Regions from separate parts of the Homo sapiens genome. Here region 2 is linked to region 1. The links come from fine-mapping of genetic effects on gene expression. A gene starts in region 1. The other region holds a variant in brackets. All regions are shown on one strand. Distances are between the middles of the regions. Region 1 holds the start of ADTRP (androgen dependent TFPI regulating protein). Region 2 overlaps ADTRP (androgen dependent TFPI regulating protein).

Region 1 (2,920 bases):
TAATAGGATTTGGTAGCTGATCAATCAGGGAAGCAAAATTGGGATTAACACTAGGAAATGATAGTATCATTGACAAGATAAGAGACTTTTCTCACTCTTGGAAAATAAGGGCTCTTGGAAATGTAGGTGAGCTAGAATTAAAAAGTCAGGATCAGTTGTGTGTGTGTGTGTGTGTGTATACAAAGAGGTAAGGGAGCTAGTTAATGAGTGTGGTGATAAATCTATTCTTAGCCACACATAGTGTGAGGTAGGACATTCATACTGGAATTGGATTTTATTAGAAAGTCAGTCCTAACTACAGACACACTTCCCTTTTAGTGGACTGTTTTTCATAGAAAGCCAATAGAGACACAAACCTTAGGGGTGTGTGTGTATGCGCGTGTGTGTGTGTGGTTTTTTGTTGTTGTTGTTTACTGTGGCACTGCTAGTTATACAAAAAACATTTTTTGTTTTGTTTCTGTTTGTTTTTCTCATAAAATTCCATGATTGAAACAAGTAGTCACCTTGAAGTTTTCAAAGACACTAGAGCTGTGTTCAGGGTTCCAATTTTTCAGGCCCAAATCAAGAGGCCACTAACCAACCAGTGAGGAGGAAGCAGCCACTTTGGGCCTCTTTGATTTTAACTCTCTCCATTTCCACGTCCTTAGCATTTCAGAGTGTCACAGTTTCTGACCACATACATTCTCCGCTTGTCAAATGAGGATTACAATTCTGAAAACAGATGTTTATGTGGCACCCAAGATTTTAGTCAAAAACCTCAAATATTAATTCACATCCCCAAATGATTCCCCATTATTAGCTTTTAACTTTAAAAGTATTTTTTTAAGCTATTCCTCAAAGTATTTTTCATAATCTGCTTTTCTCCCATTCATTCACACTTCATCAGAATGCAGTCAGCCAGGTTAGGAAGACAAGAAAGGAGTAAGTCATAAGATTGGTTTTTAAATAGTTGAAAATGTGTATTTGCCATTCGGTTGGGTGATTTGTCCTTTAAGATGGAGCCTGAACCTATAAAAAATTGAGGTGGGAGCTGAACATGGCAAAATGTGTTTGCTTTTCTTAGATAAATCTGTTAGTCTGTGTGTGCTGTAAAATGGCATTATTCCTTCATTGGAAATTACACTTCCTACACACCATACGCCACTCTGCCTTCTCTTCACAGACTTCCCCAAGCAAAGTTCAAAATGCCTCCTGCATTTGTAGTTAATCCCATGGTGAAACCATTAGCATGGTCCCCTCTTTGAGCTCATCTGAAAAGAGCTCCAAGATGAGATTTTTTTTTTCAAGAGAGCATTTAACAATGAGCCAGCATAGAAATGTTAACTATAGATAATTTCCAAATTGGGTTTATCAGAGCAAATTGTTAAGTAAACAAAAAACCCAAAACTCACAAAACGGTGAAGAAGGAAGACAAATAACAAAATTGTGTATTTAATAAAATCCAAAGATGATATGTGTGGCAGCACTGATATTCTAGAGAAATGGATCGGTTCCTGGTACGGACATATGGACTTACCAGATTAAGCAGCGTCATATATTTCCACCTTGCACCATTTGCCAAGATTTTGGGTTTCACCTCGTCTTTTCCTTCCTGTGAGATGTAATAATTGAGGAAAGTATACCAGCTCAGAACAAGGAAGTGGTATATGCATGTAGAAGTCTTCGTCATGGCGAGTGCTGACCGGGGCACCGTGAATGTCTTGAGTACTTTCTGGCGTCCTTCTGTGGGTCACAGCCTAAGTCCAACAGCAGGCCGGAGAGCTACAAACCACACCCCTCTGGGACTGAGAGTTCCAACACAGGCTGAATTTGGTTCTCTTTTAAGCTCCTTTCCTGATAAACTTCAGAGGCAGGATTACTGCTGGTTTTCAGATGCCTGCATTTAGATAATGATAGATAATCTGTAGATTTGCATAAAATACAACATGTGGGCTTTGAGAAGGGCAGGTAGCAATGCAAGAGCTGTACATTGTACTGTTTCACTAGGGCACTGGGGCAGGGGCATGGTTAAATGAAGTAAGCATGAAATACTAGGAAAATCTAGCGAAATACTTCCATGGCTGTAGTCTCTTTTCTTTTCATTTGCATATAACAAGGAAGTTGCAACCTTATCTCTTGAGAAAAGGAGGAGCAGGTTGATAAACCAGATCATGGGTGTGCTTAGGGCATGAACAGTAGAAAGGAAAAGTGTGTTGTAATTTTGCTCCTGAGGTCTCTGAGATTCTAGAAAGTCTGCAACAACCTTTGATCCTCCAGGGAGCAGCTCCAATGGTTTCTTTTCTTTTTTTTTTCACTTTTGTAACTATACCCTAGAGAACCAAGAGTAACCCAGGGCTGTCCTAGACACTCCATTTGCATAGGCATTTCTGTGCCCTGGGAGGGAAGAAGCAGCACAGGAGACCATCCTTACTATGGCCATGACCCCAAAATACCTGACTTTAGACATTGCTGGGAGAGGGTGAGAGTCCCCGCTCTGCCATGAATAGGATGAGACGTGGCTGGGCTAGGCAGCATGCCGGACTAGGCTCTGACTCAGGTTCCACAGAAGGGAACTGAGGAAGAACTAGAAGTGGATGCCTTGTGACATCGCCAGCTTGTTTCCCTGGGCAACTGACTCCGAGGGGTGAGCAAATCCCTCAGAGAAATGCTCCTGACACAGTTATGTAAGTCTGTAATTGGTGCTTTTCAATGACTTAACCAGGGCTTAAAAGTACTAGCAGAAAGAACTGTAGGCTGGACAAGGAGGACAAACCATAAACAAACCCACCTCCTAAGAGTCAACAGACTCCCAATATCAGGATTGGGAGATGGGAGGAGAGCAAACCTGAGCCCGCCATGGAGTTCTGCATTGTAACCATGTTTTTTTTTTTTTTTTTTTTTTTCATCTGTTGGGGCTGCTATAACAACATACTGTAAACTG
Region 2 (2,920 bases), 65 kb before region 1:
TGAACGCAGAGGTGTGCTGGAGCCAGTTTGCACAACAGGCTCTCGAGGACTAAGTGGTTGTCCACATCTCTTCCCAACTGTACATTCAGCAACGTGCTGCCAGCTTGAAAAAGGCCATGGGGAGAGTGTTTACACCATGGAAATGAGCACACATTATCAATCAGAGCCTGACATCTTTTCCCCAGAGAGCTGGTTGTTAAACCTTTCCCAGCACACCACCCTCAGAAACTCAGTTTGCTCATTTGTAAAATGAGAACGTAACTCATCTCCTACTTACGAAGTTTCCGTGGGCTAGAATAAGTGGGAGTGGTGATGAATTACTTGACACTACACAAATATTGCTGGTATCATCATGTGGTTGCTATAGTTGTCATTTTCTATTAAGGGCCTAACATAGTGCTATGCAATCTGCAAATACCATATACCTTTTAGCAAATGTTTAATCAGTGTGTTATTGTTTTGTTGTGTATCTTTTCTTAAGCTACTGCAGCACCGAGCATGCCCTTGTGTGCTTAGGCATGTGCTCAATGGGAAATTGTTCCGAGACATTTCTAGTGTTGGAAGAGATATTGCACAATGGCCAGGCATGCTGCAATCAAGGTTTAATTTGGTCCTAGGGCCAGTAAAGCCACAAATAGAAATTTGCAGGCTCATCCCCACCAAGAGCTTACTGTGACTGAGAGTTACGCAGCCCGAGTCACCTCTGGGGTGTGGAACATTTGGGTGATCCCCCGAGGGCTTCACGTTTGGGGAATTTCCACTGTGGCAACTGTTTCTGAGCTCCTGCTGAGACCAGGTGCTTGGAGCAGTGAAGAGGCAGCAGTAGATGTGGGGAAAGAGGTGGTATTCCCAGCTCCAACTGGAAAAGACTTGAGGCCCATATTAACAGAACAGTAGAAAAAGAAGTGGGAATTAAGCAGGTTTCTTGGTGCCTGCCCTGGTCTTCCCTTAGGCTGCCTTCCCACCTGAGATATTCTGTCCTCTTCTGTAACCCTTCAAGACCACTCTTGCTCATTTTTACCAGATTTCTCCTACATAATGTTAGGTTGGGAAGTCCAAGTCCAATTTCCTTCAGTGTCCACACCCCAACCCATATGAGCCTAGTGACATACTAGTAGACTCAAATATGTCTACCCACCAATAGCCATTTGCCATTTGTGTTCTTTAAAAAATGTGCCCACAAATAAAGGCCAGGAAAATAACACTAGGAAAATCACAGCAGGGATCATGAATCCTTGTTAAGCATCTGGAAATCAGCTTTGTTAAACCACACACTAATTCAGAAAAGTGCTTTGTAGCAAAGCAATCTCAACAGCCCTTATAATTCTATCACTTCCCATCCAGATTCTTCTGCAAGCAAAATTTATTACTATACCATTTATTTGATGAATTAATCAATGTTCAAATGGAAGAGGTTTTGACAATGTCACTATGTTTGATGTTTATACCTGCCCTGAATGCTTGCTCAGAAGAGAAACAGATTTCCCAGTATTTTTTATAACTTACTTTCCCATTGTCTTCAATTAATTTGCTATTATCCCAAGTAGACAGACAACTTCAGTAGTAGCCATCTCCCTACATTTTTAGATCACTGAAAAAAATGGATGAGCAACCCATGAAAATAACTAGCTTACTGAAATGCTTGTCTTTTAAA[G/GA]AAAGTTGGGATTATTTAAAAAAAAAAAAATGGCCCAGGACCAGTAGCTAGGAGATCTGGGAGAGAGAAGTCATTGCCTTGGTTCTGACACTAAGTAACCCTTTTGCCTTTTGCAGGTAACTTCTCATCTAGGTCCTCAGCATCCTTCTCTGTAAACTGAAGAGTTTAAATGACTCTAAGTTCCTCTCTCTCTCTCTAGATGTTCTCTAACACCAAGTTTATGTGAGTTTCTTTGGCCAGATTTTAACCAGAGACCATCCTCCACGAAGGTCAAAGATAATTAATTCTGAGATAGCAGGAGTTGTTTTTGGCATGTGCAGTCAACCTTTCAAAAAACCAAGAGTTCTCAAGTTAAGCTACCTTCACGAACCTCTTATTAAATTTAAGTATCACTCTCTGTCCCTCCTACTTTGCTATGTTCCTCCACCACCTCCCTCCACCAGAAAAAAAAAAAAAAGATGAGAAAAATCTCTTGTGTTTTCTTCTTTCTTGGTTCTTGGAAAATGGTGTGCAATTACTTCCTCTTCTTCCGTGGCTGCCTCATGTCACCTGTACAAACAAGAACAGAGACAGACCTCAGGCTTCAGGCTTTCCCTAATGGGTATTTTTGTTGTGGGTAGAGATTCACTCTGACTTGGGGCAGTGGAAAGTTGAACACACTTTTCCCAAGGTGACAAGATGCAGTTTAAGGAGTTATGAAAAAACAGCTGCCACGATGACAGGGGCAGAGAACAACTCTGCCGTCCTCCCTCAGTGCTGGGTTCACAGTTAGCCAGGCACCCACGATGCTGTTTGCCTTCAGGTACTCTGCATAGCTAAGAGGAAGCATATTGCTGTGACTCTGAGTGAGTGTCTGCAGGCTACACACAATCCATCAGCAAACTTTGAGACTTTGCAGATGGAGATGAAGAGACCACATCAAATTAGAGAGGAAATAGAAGGGTGGATGTTCAACTAATTGGGGTCATTCTGTGACCTCTTAGCAAATGAATTCATCAGCCTGGTGGAAAAGTACTGGCATATGGATTAGGTTTGAGTAAGCTCATTAGAGGGGCATTATTCTACTGAAATTATAGCATTAGATTTGTAGAATGACTTCTATTCAGCCAACAAGTTGGTACTCCATATTTAATGATCATAAATCTTTGTGTAAGCTCTGCAATTTGTGAAATTTCATTAGCTCATTATCCTTTGTGCTTGTTGCCAAATACTGTCAATGCTACTTTAAAAACTTCTCCTCCATTCCAGAACTTACAGCCCTGGTAG

Evidence for each region. PIP is the estimated chance that this variant, and not a neighbour inherited with it, causes the effect.
Region 2: its variant is fine-mapped to the expression of ADTRP in blood mononuclear cells (TOPMed, PIP 0.94).

The regions. Positions count from the first base shown.
Region 1 is chr6:11,777,091-11,780,010 of GRCh38, forward strand. ADTRP (androgen dependent TFPI regulating protein) reads right to left here and starts at 1,713. Exons shown (of 6, transcript NM_032744.4): 1 at 1,517-1,713. The coding sequence starts at 1,669.
Region 2 is chr6:11,712,310-11,715,229 of GRCh38, forward strand. It overlaps ADTRP (androgen dependent TFPI regulating protein), which reads right to left. Exons shown (of 6, transcript NM_032744.4): 6 at 1,214-2,203. The coding sequence ends at 2,169. Among named protein-coding and RNA genes, the nearest start is that of ADTRP, 65 kb to the right of the region's middle. RefSeq lists an enhancer at 2,067-2,216. The variant G/GA (reference allele first, on the strand shown) is at 1,655.